2 linked regions of the Homo sapiens genome follow. The protein of the gene in region 1 interacts with the protein of each later gene in a biochemical or structural test. Each region holds a gene or a part of one and is shown in the gene's direction. Other genes may lie near its edges.

Region 1 (7,451 bases):
GTGAGGCGGCCCGGGCCGGGTGGCAGCTCCAGGAGGAGAGAGAGCCCCTTCCTCTGCGGCGCAGGAAGCCGGAGGGAGCGTCCAACCTGTTGAACTTGTGTATTGACAAGTTGTCAAGCTCGGCAGGCCGAAGATTGCCCTGAATTAATTTGTTTGTTTAAACTGTTGGTGGTAATTGTCACATCTCCCCTGCCTTTCTCCAGCATACTCGGAGACGGGTTCTCCCTCGTTCCATTCCCTAGCAATCCCGGGGCTCGGGTCCTTTCCTCCTGCGGCCCTCGGAGGCCAAAAGCTATTTCTGTGGGGGCGGGGCCTGCGGGTAGGGAGGCTTGTTCTTGGACGGAGCTGGAAAAGTCTGCGCAGAAACGAGGTGTCTGGCGTGCGCGACGCTCCCTCTCTTTTGGATGGGGGCGAGGATACCTGGCTACTCCAGCCCAGAGGGTCTCTGGTTTCCCTGCGAACCCCCTTCCCTGGTGGGGAGGAGCCCTGGACCGAAGGAGAACACACCTGGTCTTACTTGAGGCTCTGCCATTATCGTGGCACTTTGAGCACGGGCCCCTCTTCTAAGCCTCAGCTTCCGAATCTATTCAGTGTAGTGGTTAGACGATCTCAGAATCCCTTCCTCCCTCAGATTCCCTCTCCCTTCTTCTTTTCACCTCTTGGGCGATTTTGCCCGCCCAGACTTGACATTGGGGCGGGGCTGGGGGGAGAGCCGCAGCGGCTGTGTCTCGACGTCTCTAATCGCCGGCATGCGTTTCTCTGTTTGCCTCTGCAGCCGTGCAGCACGAGCGGGGGCCTCGGACGTCCACCATCCGCAAGCAAGTGGCCCTCTACTTCCGTGGACACAAGGAGGAGAACGGGGCCGCCGCGCACTTTCCCTCGGCGGCGCTCCCTGCGCCGGCCTTCTTCACCGCGGTCACGCAGCTGGAGCCGCACGGCCTGGAGCTGGCCGCGGTGTCCACCACTCCAGAGCGGCAGACCCTCGTGAGCCTGGCTCAGCCCACGCCCAAGGTCAGCGGCCTTGCTGGGCCCAAAGAGACTCGTGCCAGCGAATGGAGAGGGACGCACCCAGTTCTTCTGAGCTGTGTGATTGGGGTCAGGCAAACTGGGGAGAGAACTCCAGGGTGCTTGGCGGGTCTCTGCATGGAGCTCCAGCCCTTCTGCTCTCCCTTGTTCAGCCAGGGGTGCTCAAACTTGAGTGTACAGTAGAGTCAACCTCCGAGTGGCTACAAGTGTGCACTCCGGATCTTATCCCCCCAGAAATTTCATTTCAGCAAGTTTGGGGTGGAGGCCAGGAACCTGCACCTTTAGGAAACACCCACTGGTAATGGGTGGTGGGTGGAGACCTCGTCTAAACCCAGAGGGCAGCCTCAGGTGTTCCTAAAGACCAGAAGAACCAACGTTCATTTTTAGAGGAGAGGAATTGGCTACAGCTGGAGGAAGGGCTCCAGAATTCCAAATCTTGGCATGTATGATCTTGGGCAAAGCCATGAGTTTCTAACGCAAGTGCGAAATGTGGAGATCACACTGTTAGAACAGTTTGAGGAATCTGAGTTCATTTCCCATGCTCCCCTCACCTACTTCTGAGGCAGGTGGATTTACAGCAGGGTTGATTCCATAGGAGCAGGGCCACAGCCTGAACCACCTGGAAAGGCTGCCACCTAAGGCCTACCCTCCAGGCCTACAGCTGATACCTACTAACACCCCCACTCCAGGCTGATGAGGGCCTAGGATCTCCCTCAGAGGAGGGCCAGCTGCAGCCCCACACTGCAGGGAAGCCAGACACCTGGGCACATGCACACGCACAATATTTAATATGGCTTTCTTACCCTTGATGTGTATAATAAGCTCTGGAAAGTAGTGTTATGAATATGTTGTCAGTTATGAATGGGAATGCTCTGTGAATGATTAAGATGTCTAATTGAAATATTTCCATAATATACTAATCCTTTCTAAAAATACTCATATGCATATTTGTGTTTGGGATGCCTATTAATTTATACTTTTTCACATCTATTTTTATTTACACAAATGCAAGCAGCTCTTGTCTAAATTGGGAGCCAGGCTTGGCACTTGGCTCAGCCCAAGGAAAATTTGCTGCAGGGGATAGAAAAGCCAGAGGGCCTTCTGGAAGGGAGAGGCTCCCAAAGAGTGGAAATGGACCTCCCCCAACCAGTATTACTTTTCAAACTCTATAGACAGCGATGTTTGATTTTTTTACCCACCAATGTCAACTGCATGTTTAAACAAAACATCCAAATTCTTTTTTATCCCCTTCCTTGCTTTAATTAGAAATTAAAAGTTTGGTTCTTCTTGCAAAGCTGTGGTTTCCTCACTTCCAGGTGTCTTTCTTTCTTCCCTACCCAGTACCCCCATGAAGTGAATGGGACCCCAATGTATCTCTATGAAGTGGCCACGGAGTCGGTGTGTGAATCAGCTGCCAGACTTCTCTTCATGAGCATCAAGTGGGCTAAGAGTGTGCCAGCCTTCTCCACGCTGTCTTTGCAAGACCAGGTATGACCACACTGAGGCCTTGGGAGAAAGAGAGCTGGGAAAGAAGCAGTAGCACTCAGCCTTATAAAACTTCCTCTATCCCTGGGTAAACCACCCAAGGCAGGCATCCATTCTTAATAGCAGTGAGGAAACTACTTGTTTTTACTTGCTTCTTCCTGTGGGTTCAAAATATCTACCTATATGATCCTTAGTAAGAAACGTAATTACATTATTTCAGAAAGGATGGGTCCAGTCTGTGAAAACACACATACAAGAACATTACCTCTTTTTGTTTGATTGGAACAGCAAATATAATCTCAAATTTTAAAATTGTAATGATTTTCTAAAACTGTTGATGAAACAATGTTTTACTAAGAACATTGGAACTGAGAGAAGTAGAAGGTGGTAAGAGTATGCCCTCATGAGATTTTTCAGAACTGATGTTATTATTTTATATTCCCAGCTTTATATTCTCCATTGCGATGCTCCCAGTTTTGGTCATTAATTGATAAGCATGTAAAACCAAAGGGCACAGTGCACACCTCCTGTAGGCTAGGTTCTTCCTTGATTCTTCATGTACTTTTAGACATTTTGTAAACAAATAGGCATTTTGCTTAATTCCGTGGTTGTAAATGACATTCAGGGGAAGAAAAAGTGTGTGCAGTGAAACATTGTATTGTACTGAGACCCAGAAATTTTGTTGATAGGAATATTAGAAATGCTAACATTTTTCTAACCTTAAAGGAAAGAAAGAAAATAAAGTGTTCCCAACCATTGGCTGTTACCAGTGCATTCACAGGAATTAATGACAAATTTTCCAAAGGCTAATAAGTAGTTCTAAAAGCAAAGGATTTATTTCTTCAATTCATTTCATACCTAATTAAAGCATAATAGTGCCCCTTTATATGAAGTATGTTTCCTACGGAAAGATCGGGCAATGTGCTAAAAGCATTTCATTTTCTAGCATGAGATGTTCTTGTTTTCATGGCCTGCCCTTTCAAATATGGCCAGAATTAAATATTGTTTACCTTGCATTTTATAATTATTTCCTGTACTTGATGGAATAAAACTAAAAATAAAACATTAAAAAAATTAAACCCTTTGGTCTAATTGTGATTTTGGTTACAAGCCTTCATGATTCAGCTCTTAGCTCCCAAAAGAAATCCTTTTACATAAATCATTTAGAGTTGACTGGCTTTTGAGTTTTGAGATTTTTAAAGGTAGTTAGGTCCTATCTTTGACCAGGTTTACTGGTTAGCTCTAACCACTTCCTGTGTGTGTGTGTGTGTGTGTGTGTGTGTGTGTGTGTGTGTAGACTGGCTATTTTTTTTCAAAATAAGTATTTGTATACTCTCACCCAAACAAAATTTACTTACTGTCTGCCACTTAGCCCTTTGGTAGAAATCCTTCGACAACAAGCAACCTGCAGTGAAGTGGAATCTGGTATATTAATTTGGAAAAAGAGACAGATTTTCATTTTAAATATTCAGTAGCACATTTTATTAGAATAAAAATGACAAGCACCTTGATGCTGTCCATTTATGGGTCTCAGAAAAATCAAGCAGTGAGACGAGGAAAACTCAGCAAAACCCGATTAACATAATTACACCCTGATTTCCCCCAGTGCCTCTTGGGAATTAGTGATCTCTGTCTCTCTCCCAGCCCAGCCCCCTCAACCCTCCAGGAAGATGGGGACCCAGCTCTGCAAGCGTCTGAGGAATCCTCAACCCTGCTAATAGCAGCATTCTCTGTGAGGGGAATCCACCTGCTGAGCTGCTGGCATTTCATAAAGCCTCGCTCTCTAGAGGAGCTTCTAGGTGGTCAGGAATGGGTGGATACAAGGACAAGAGGGGCAAATCCTTTTCTGAGAGAAGGAAACTTTGGAGAATTGGAATGGCTGACTCTCAAATCCATATGCATATCTATAGGCACCTTTTCAAAAGGAAAATATGGGAAAATAAGGGAAAGCTAGAATATTCAGAAAAAATTACCAAGACAGGCATTTAAAACACTTTTTAAAATAATGGAAATTTACATAGTGAAATTGTTTATAAATTTATAAATTACACACTATATTATATTATACATCTATTGTATGACAGCTGATGCTTTTGGAAGATGCTTGGAGAGAACTGTTTGTTCTAGGAATAGCACAATGGGCCATTCCGGTTGATGCTAACACTCTACTGGCTGTATCTGGTAAGAATTGCACAATTTAATGACTTTGTTGTAGAAATTACCATAAAAATACATTACTGAAAAAAGAACAACATGTAAAGAATAACAAATTCCTGCTGAACAATAGAGTATACCTGTCATTTATAAATCTATATTTAAATGCAAATAATGTTGTTTTGTTGTATTCATGACTGCTTGCATTGTTATTTAAATGCAAATTACTGTGTTTGTTATCATCCAAGAGAAGATTTTATATTAACTTTCATACAATATAGCCGGTTTACATGGAATCAGATATCTTAGAGTGACAATTGAATAGATATTGATATGCAGGATTTTGTCAAAAATCAATATTAAATCATGAAAATGCCTTCATATTAGAGTATTTATCCCATATTTTTATTCTAGGCATGAACGGTGACAACACAGATTCCCAGAAGCTGAACAAGATCATATCTGAAATACAGGCTTTACAAGAGGTGGTGGCTCGATTTAGACAACTCCGGTTAGATGCTACTGAATTTGCCTGTCTAAAATGCATCGTCACTTTCAAAGCCGGTAAGCAGACACAGACCCCTGTTTCTTCTCCTTCCCCAGTTTTGCCACCTCACTAATTCAGCCACCTCGAAGTCTGAACTGACCTTTGCAAAAAGAGGTGATGGTTTTCAAGGGAGCTGATACTCTTAATCTGGCCCCATTTTTTATTGCTATGGGAACCTGCATGTTCTGCTGGGCATCAACTTCCAGAGAGGTGCATTCCCAGACCCAATTTCTTTTTTTCTTTCTTTTTTTTTATTTTTTAAATTTTTGTGGAGATGGTGTCTTGCTCTTGTCACCCAGGCTGGAGTCCAATGGCACCATCTCAGCTCACTGCAACCTCTGCCTCCTGGGTTTAAGCAATTCTCCTGCCTCAGCCTCCCAAGTAGCTGGGATTACAGACACATGCCACCATGCCTGGCTAATTTTTGTATTTTTAGTAGAAACAGGGTTTCACCATGTTGGCCAGGTTGGTCTCGAACTGCTGACCTCAAGTGATCCGCCTGCCTCGGCCTCCCAAAGTGCTGGGATTACAGGCGTGAGCACTGCGCTCGGCTCCCAGATGCAATTTCTATGCTGTCTATCACAGTTTCCTGGTCTTCATTTCTAGTTCCTACACATAGTGGTTCTGAACTGAGAAGTTTCCGGAATGCTGCCGCCATTGCAGCCCTTCAAGATGAGGCTCAGCTAACGCTCAACAGCTACATCCATACCAGGTGACCCTTGTTTGCCTTGAACATGTACTTAAGAAAATTGCCTCCATTGTGAATGCCTGAGCAGGCGGTAATAAGCCAGTTCAAACATTGTGACTAATTATCTTGTTGCCAGCCAGTTAATTTAGGGAGAATCCATGTCCTTACCTATCTCTCAGGGTGGGTGAGAGGAGCAAATCTAATTAGATGATCAAAGTGAAAGCACTGCCAGACATATTACAGTTGTCCTGGCGGAACAAATTGATCCATCAAAATAATGGAACAACATTTGTGTGAATGGGTATGGAGGGGTCAAAAATGAAGCCTAGGCTGGGCACAGTGGCTCACGCCTGTAATCCCAGCACTTTGGGAGGCCGAGGTGGGTGGATCACGAGGTCAGAAGATCGAGACCATCCTGGCTAACACAGTGAAACCCCGTCTCTACTAAATAATACAAAAAAATTAGCTGGGTGTGGTGGTGGGCACCTGTAGTCCCAGCAGCTACTCGGAAGGCTGAGGCAGGAGAATGTCGTGAACCTGGGAGGTGGAACTTGCAGTGAGCCGATATTGTGCCACTGCACTCCAGCCTGGGCGACAGAGCGAGACTCCGTCTCAAAAAAAAAAAAAAAAAAAAAGAAGCTCAAAGTGTAATGGTTGGTATGTGAGAGAGTGGCCACATCATCCTTGAGAAAACACAGGTGACTTTCTTCAGATGCCAATCTCAAATAAAAGGATGAGAGAACTTTCCAGAGAGGCTATCTTTTTTTTTGAGACAGGGTCTTGCTCTGTTGCCCAGGCTGGAAGGCTGAAGTGCAGTGGCATGTGAGCATGGCTCACTGCAGCCTTGAACTCATGGGCTCATGTGATCCTCCCACCTCAGCCTATTGAGTAGCTGAGACTATAGGTGCATGCCACCACACCCAGCTAATTTTTTTTTTTTTTTTTTTTTGAGACAGAGTTTCACTCTTTCACCCAGGCTGGAGTGTAGCGGTGCAATCTCGGCTCACTGCAACCTTCGCCTTCCGGGTTCAAGTGATTCTCCTGCCTCAGCCTCCCAAGTAGCTGGGATTACAGGTGCCTGCCACCACGCCCAGCTAATTTTTGTATTTTCAGTAGAGACGGGGTTTCACCGTGTTGGCCAGGCAGGTCTCGAACTCCTGAACTTGTGATCTGCCTGCCTTGACCTCCCAAAGTGCTGGGATTACAGGTGTGAGCCACCATGCCCGGCACACCCAGCTAATTTTTAAACTTTTTATAGAGACAAGGTCTTGCTATGTTGCCCAGGCTGGTCTCGAACTCCTGGCCTCAAGTGATCCTCCCACCTAAGTCTCCCAAAGTGCTGGGATTACAGGCCTGGGCCACTGTGCCCAGCCTAAAGAAGCCATCTTTTCACCTATCATAACTGTTGTTTGGCCTTGGTGACTGGTATCTGTTATTTTGTGTCATAACATCTACCAGGTTACTTCTGGCCATGCAGGGCCCACAGGCAGAGGCTGTTTTTGGCTGTTTGTAGGAACTCTCAGAGACTGGGGCTCCAACAAAGCTCCTCCT
Region 2 (7,639 bases), on another chromosome or scaffold:
ACTGGCAGTGGGGAAGAAAGAAGTGCTGCTGGAGGCTCAACCTGAAAAAGTGCAACGGGAGATATAGCTGAGGCTCGTTATTGGCTTATATTTGCACTACATAAACTTGGAAGCCAATTTCATAGAAAATGCCTAGAAACAAGCTTCAGTCTGCTACAAGGCCTGCTAAAGCACCCTAGTTCTGCTTAAGGCATTTTAGGGGAAAATAATTTACATGTTCTAAAGCTTGAGTACTGCTGGTGAATTATGAAGACTAGTTACCAGCTGTATGTTCAAAGAACTTGAATGGTTTTTTTTAATTATAAGAATTATCCATGCTTGATATGAAAAGAAAAAAGTCCTTGTCTCTAAAAAAAATTAAAATAAATGATTAAAAAAGTGAAACCACTAAACCACAATTTCTTAGGTTGAGTTTACTGGTGTTTATTTTATTATTATCCCCCTCAACCTATGTACACATAATGTATATTCTTTTGTCTATGCCAAATTTTTATGATTTTAAAAAATGAAATCAAAAGTATTAGAAGAACACTAAAACTTTTTCAAATCATGGATTGAAGAAGCTCTTTCTAACATGGCAGGAAATCCAGACGCCATAAAGGAAAAAACACCAATAAATTTTACTGCATAAATATTTCACATCCCTATAAGGCATAAAAACACCATAGCAATGCAAGAAACAGGCAGACTGGGGAGAAACATTTTCAACACGTATAAGCAAGGGCTAACTTCCTTTTTTTTTTTCCTTTGAGACAGGGTCTCACTCTTGTCACCAGGTTGGAATGCAGTGGCATGATCACAGCTCACTGCAGCCTCAACCTCCCAGGCTGAAGCCATCCTCCCACCTCAGCTTCCCAAATAGCCTGGACTACAGGCATGTGCCATCACACTCAGCTAATTTTTAAAATTTTTTTGTAGAGATGGGGGTCTCATTATGTTGCTCAGAGTAGTCTCAAATTCCTGGGCTCCAAAAAAAAAAAATTTCAATTAAAAAAATAAAGAAATCCACCTGTGATTTTGGGGGTGGGGTGTGTTAGGAGTAATATGAATCTAGTGGGTGTGTGTTGTTGTTTTTTGTTTCCCCATATAGCTATCTTGTTGTCCCAATATCATTTATTAAATAATCCCCATTTTCCATCTTCCTTTAATACAGCTCTGATGTGATCTCTGTATATTTAAAAAAAAATCACTTCTTACCTGTAGTAAGATACATAAAATAACTAAAAAAAGTCCTTGATATTTTCAGATTCAATAACTACTTTATTTACTTAATTCCCACTTAAAAATATTGCTGAAAAGAGAATAAGGAAACTTTTAAAAATTTAATATGGGAAAAAAATCCAAGTCGGTATTTTACGTCTTTAATCTTCAGCTAGTTCTTTAACTTCCGTAAGCCCCAGTTCCTTGACTTTTAAAATGGAGATAATAAGCCGGGAGCAGTGGCTCACGCCTGTAATCCCAGCATTTTGGGAGGCTGAGGCGGGCGGATCATCTGAGGTTGGGAGTTCGAGACCAGCCTGACCAACATGGAAAAACCCTGTCTCTACTAAAAATACAAAATTAGCTGGGCATGGTGGCACATGCCTGTAATCCCAGCTGCTCAGGAGGCTGAGGCAGGAAAATCGCTTAAACCCGGGGGTCAGAGGTTGCGGTGATCTGAGATCGCGCCATTGCACTCCAGCCTGGGCAACAAGATCGAAACTGTCTCAAAAAAAAAAAAAAAAAAAAAAAGAGATAATAATAATACACTTCATGGGGAGAAAAAGTGGGCTAAAGAATGTAACATGTTTCTTAGGGCACTGGGAACATAAGCTTTCAATCAATAGTTTAATAGTTGTTCTTAACGATGAAGATTATTTTACTGCATTATCAGCTTCTCAGATCCTTGGAAGGAGGTCCAGTACTCTCCGGCTTTATGGCTGGACCACAATTCTTTCGTGGGACTGTTACAGTTAAATGGGTTTAGTTTGCTAATTTTGTGGTCTGATACCATATATTATGCTTTGTAACTATGTGGCATTTCTGGACTTCTAAATTTACATTTTTATGGATAAATGAAAGTGACGGCCAATCCCTAATACCATAGTAAATGTTATTTCCTAACGTGGAGAGCCTCTCTCCTCCCTGCTGGATGGCAGTGCATTGTCCATTTGTCTACCACAGAGCTGAATCTTTATTAGAAATAATGCTCCTGTAAGTTTCGAGACCAGCCTGGGCAACATAGTGAACCTCCATCTCTACTAAAATTACAAAAGTTAGTTGGGTGTGGCGGCACACACCTGTAATTTCAGCTACTCAGGAGGCTGAGGCAGGAGAATCGCTTCAACCGAGGAGGTGGAGGTTGCAGTGAGCTGAGATCGTGCCACTGCACTCCAGCCTGGGCAACAGAGCGAGACTCTGTCTCAAAAAAAAAAAAAAGAAAAAAAAGAAAGAATGCTCCTGTAGATAGAGATTTTGATGGAAAGTGAAGCCATCTAACTGATATACTTTATCCCTCATCATTTCCAAACAGGAAGTCAGATAGTCCTATCCATATCTAGAATGTTGGAAGCAGTTTATTGAATTTATTAGGTTTTAAAATTCAGTTCTCACATTATCAGATATATAAAGAGATATTAACTAGTTTCCCCATTTCATAACTCCAGCAAAGAGGATTTTTCTTGCTGAAAGTTACTCAGAAATGTGATGGCAAGGATCTATGGCTTTTTTTTTTTTTTTTAAGATCTCTTGGGTCATGGTCCAATAGTATCTGTTAGTCCAAATTATTCTTTAAAGAATAATTGAATGTGGGCCGGGTGCGGTGGCTCACGCCTGTAATTCCAGCACTTTGGGAGGCTGAGGCGGGCGGATCACCTGAGGTCAGGAGTTCGAGACCAGCCTGACCAACATGGAGAAACCCCATCTCTACTAAAAATACAAAATTAGCTGGGTGTGGTGGCGCATGCCTGTAATCTCAGCTACTCGGGAAGCTGAGGCAGGAGAATCGCTTGAACTGAGGAGGCGGAGGTGGCGGTGAGCCGAGATCGCGCCATTGCACTCCAGCCTGGGCAACAAGAGTGAAACTCCCTCTCAGAAAAAAAAAAAAAATGAATAATTCAATGTGGAAATTATAATCTGAATAGATTTTCCAAGGAGAAAATTATCACTTCTTTTGAAACAGATGAGTGAATTATTTTGTGCTACGTTTTCTACCCCTTATTTTATACGGACCTTAACTCCTTCGGGAAGAGTGTATGGTATAAGGACACCAATAAGCATTTACAGAATATTAACAAACCAACAATAGGTTGATGATTCACCCTGGATTCGTGCCAGGCTCTGTGAAAGAACTCAATAAACATGATGTGCATTTCAAAAACTGCTAATCATAATTGAAATTTCCAAACCCCTCAATCCCATAAATTATATGAACTAGAATATGATCATTTGGCCTGCCCCTACTCCCTTTACAGCATGATAGACCCTGTGATTATCAGGCTTTCGGGAAGTGGGACACAATACTTCATTCTTCAAAGAAAAAGAGGTGATGTTTGGTCTTTTCCTCTTTTTAGATTTTTTTTCACACGTACCTTATAGAGTTGTACACTGCTCTTTCTAAAATCCCTTCTGTACCTGTACAGTCTCTCCTTTATGCCTTCATGACACTTTTTATTCTTTTCAAATAAGCAGTGCGACTTATCACTTTTATTTTTCTTTCTGTAATTCATCTTTTGTCATGTACACTATTTGAAAAATATTACAAGCCGCTCATCAGAATTTCGAAAGAGTCCATATGAGAATGGTTTACACCCACTCTGTAGCCCGCAGCAACATGGATCCGCGTCCTAATGACTGAAAAGGCCAATTAAGACCCGGGTAACAGCAAGATCAACCGGACTTCCCCCCACCCCACCCGGGACCTGCCCGCGCCGCCAGCCCGGCCCAGCCCGGGGGGCGCGGGGGGCGGTACTGGAGCGCGGCGGGCGGCGGAGGAGGGCCGGCCTCGCACTCTCACAAAGACGCGCCCGCGGCGGGAGCCCAGCCCACCGCCTCTGGCCGCCGCCTGCAGCGCGAGCCCTCGAGCCCCGGGCCGCGGCGTTGTCAAGGCTCGGCCTCTCTCCGCCTTCTTCTCTGCTCATTTTATTAAAAAGATTAAAAAAAAAAAAAAAAAAAAAAAAAAAAGGAAAAAGAGATCCCGCCTCCTCCGCCTCCCATTGGCCGGGCCCCCGGCCGCGTCACACCGCGCTGTACCAATGGAGGGGCGCGATACTGCGAGGTGGGCCGGGCCCGAGCGGGGAGTGGGCGGCGGGTCGGTGCAGCAGCTCCGCCGCGGCTCCGCCACCATCGCGGAGGTGCCGCTGTTCCCACAGACGCTCGCGAGCAACCCTCCGCGCTCCGGAGCCTCCTCAGCCTCCCGCACACCCCGAGACGCTCGCCCCGCTGGGCCTCGGTCCCCGCCTCCTCCCCCGTCCTTTTCCCCTCTCTCGCTCCCCACATTGTCTCTGCCTCATTTTCTCTCCTAGTTGAGGATTAAAAAAAAAAAAAAATCACCATCATCCTCAGGGAGCCCCCTCGCCCTCGGAAAACAAAACCAGACATGATCCTGGGCTCCTGCTTCTGAAAGATCTGCCCGACCGAGGAGGAGGGAGCCTAGGTTCAAGTCGCAGGAAAGGTCACGGCAGGGAAGCCCCCTCAGCCCCTCCGCGTCGCCTCCCCGCGGGCCGCCCCTCTCGGCCCTGCGCCCCGCGGCCCCGCAGCCTCCGCGCGGCCTCCCGCCCCATCCCCGCCACTTTCCCCGGAGCTGGGCCGCGAACACCTCACTATTGATGGTGTAGCGCTTTAGGGGAAGGTAAGTGTCCAACTTGCCCGCGCCGGGTCGTGTGCTTTCTTTTTTGGCCCCTCGTCCTGGTGGTCAGAGAGGGTCGGCCGTGAAAGCAGTCACTCGCCCGGGGGGAGGCAGGAAGAAAAGGCTGGGGTCGAAGCCGAAGTCGAGGGGAGTCGGGCGAGGGCAGGGCACTTCTTTGGTCCTGTCCGGGCCAGGTGACCGTTCCTGCGTGCCTTCTGACCCCTGCTCTCTCTTGGCCTCTTATTCATGCTCTTGTTCTACTTGTTTGAGGTTAAACTATTTCATGTGACTACATTATTGGCTGAAACTGGAAGGGAAGGAAGTCAAGGACTGAAACTGTAAATTTCTTGAATGTTTGTGGATTTCGGGGTGCTGGGGGGAGGACTTTATTATTAAAGTATCATTTTCTCATTGGGGGAAGATTTCCTCTTTGTGCTCCCAATCTCTAGTTCTCAGCTGTATGTGATTAGAAAATTATGAAACCCAAAGTCACTTGCAGCAGAATAGAATTCTTACTATCCTGTTTTAGTTCTGCTCTCTGAAGGAGGGTGGCTTCTATTTATTACTAATTTTTAAGATGATGGAAAGATTCGTAGTTTTACATACACGTGTGTATGTGTGTCTGCTAGGAGGGGGGAAAAGTGTTGCAGGCTTCCTTTGAAACTGGTTGCTTGAGAAGTTGTTGAAAGGAAAACAGAATGATTCATTGTTGAATTGTCATTTTCCTCTGTCTCTTTTCCAAGGTTTGCTTACAATTTTTCTGGATTACAGACTTCAAACATTGATTTAAGTAAAATGGGTCCTTGAGAAACTGGGTGCTTTAAATGTTTCAGTATCTGTTGCTTTTTTAAGGTACATTTAGAAAGTAGTTTTGTATGAATCGTGAAATAGCCTTCTTCACAGCGAATTTTTAAACGCAAAAAAAGATAACTAGTAAGAGGGTGAACTTGGTGAATTACAAAATAGACATTTTAATATAGCAGGAATTGATGCATCTAAGATTTGAAACAGTTTTCATAATTGCTTTCCATTTAAAGAGAGACCTTTTTGTCTAGTGTACACTGGTCTTTTTAGTCTCAGTCTGTTGGGGGAGGGGAGAGAAGCTGGATCTGTACAATAATAAAATCATCTTTGGGTTGATATTTTGTTCCATGGATTTGCTTGCTGAGTTAATACTACTGTAAATTATCAACCAGTTTTGATTTTGATGGCCTGGGATGGGTGGAAAGCTGGCTTCCAGCTCTCCCTGTTGTTGTTGAGGTCGAAGGGAAAAGAGGCAGAGGCAGACAGACACACATATACACACACACACACACACATACACACACACACAATACCAAGCTGAGGGCTCATTGTTCTTCCATACACACATTCATTCTCTCTCTCCCATATTTGGGACTAGGTTTGCACAGACAAACACAGCTCTTTTTGGGAGAGAAGAGAGAAGATGGGGGAAGGGAGGGTGCTTTTCTGTTACAGCTTTCTTCCACCCATCTCATGCCTGGCCGTTTTTGCAACCTTGTGAGGCAGAAGAGTGCATTGGAAACTAAAGGACACTCAAAAACATGTTCAGAGACTTCTCTTCTCTCTGCCTCCCTTTATTCCTTTTGCAGCCGTGGTTTCTGCTGCTCTTTCTTTTTTGTATATGTAAAGATAAAATCCCTCTTTATATGTTGTGGCCTTACGTTCAGCTCTCATTGCTTTTGTATTTCTCATTGACCCTGATTTTGTTGGGGACAGTGATTTGTTCACTTGAGTCTTAGTAGTGAATGTGAGCAGAGTCTTTCTAGATAGAAATAGATTTTATTGATTAATATTATAAAGGTTGTATTGAGGTTAATATTTAGCAAGATGATGTTTGCATGTTTTTAGTGGTGTGATGGTTTGATGGTCAGGTTTGCTGGCAATTGAGCTGTCAATGTTGTTTTTGTAAATAAGGGTTATAAGAAAAGATCTGGTTTTCTGTTTAGGGGGCTCCTTTGAATACTGGACAGGGAATAGGCTAGTCCACCTGGGATAAACCCAGCTGTGGCCCAAGGATGGAGGTTGGTGTGAATACATGTGGGTTGCAGAATAGCACCTTCTACTGGTTAATTGTTTGGAAAGATCCAGACGAAGAGGATGGGGGAGGGGATTAATGGCTGAGGCTTAATGATTTTCTTTTAAGCGCAGTTGTTGTGCCTTTCTGCAAATGCCACTTCCCCGAGCTGCTAATACAGATGTCCTTTGACAGGCACGGTTGCATTGAGGCATTATTATGTTACTGGTTGTGCTTCGACATTAATTTGTTCTGTTACCAGAAGTATTTACACTTTGTGACTTCCCAGGACTCCTTTGAATGATACCTTCTCATCTTTTATGAGATAATTTCTCTTGAAATATTAAACCAGAGGGTTTATTTCTGTTCCCAGTATTGGAAACTATATACACCAGCAGTCTTTTAAAAAAGTTTTTAGTATCATTAATAAAAAATCAAATAAACCTACTCTATGGAAAGTAAAATTGTAGCACTGGACAGAGGTTTTTCTTGGGATTTAAACCAGGTAGAGGGGTAGAGGAGGAGTTGAAGGAGGGAAATCTCACTAAAATCGGCAATTTTGCAAATGTAGTGGCCTTGCATTGCAGTAGTGTTGTTTTCAGTAGTCTTATAAAGTCTGATAGGGTGACTTATTGTATGGATTAGATAAAGAATTTAAAATTGGAAGCCAGAGAAAATGTGAAATGAGTGTGTACACAAATTATCATAGAAGAGGGTCAAATTGTTGCCCAAAGGCTTGTAAACTAAGGTGCAGTTTCAGAGATAATCTGCTTAAT

Evidence for each region. The genes of interacting proteins can lie anywhere in the genome.
Region 2: the proteins of NR2E1 (region 1) and RERE form a complex in vitro, tested with the Homo sapiens proteins (one study listed by BioGRID).

Annotation. Positions count from the first base shown.
Region 1 is NC_000006.12:108,175,728-108,183,178, forward strand, and holds part of NR2E1 (nuclear receptor subfamily 2 group E member 1), read left to right. Parts: intron 1-775; coding exon 776-1,011; intron 1,012-2,367; coding exon 2,368-2,514; intron 2,515-4,595; coding exon 4,596-4,692; intron 4,693-5,079; coding exon 5,080-5,229; intron 5,230-5,818; coding exon 5,819-5,924; intron 5,925-7,451. UniProt on the Homo sapiens protein: Orphan receptor that binds DNA as a monomer to hormone response elements (HRE) containing an extended core motif half-site sequence 5'-AAGGTCA-3' in which the 5' flanking nucleotides participate in determining receptor specificity.
Region 2 is NC_000001.11:8,814,349-8,821,987, reverse strand, and holds the start of RERE (arginine-glutamic acid dipeptide repeats protein), read left to right. Parts: upstream 1-4,347; 5' UTR 4,348-4,828; intron 4,829-7,639. UniProt on the Homo sapiens protein: Plays a role as a transcriptional repressor during development. May play a role in the control of cell survival. Overexpression of RERE recruits BAX to the nucleus particularly to POD and triggers caspase-3 activation, leading to cell death.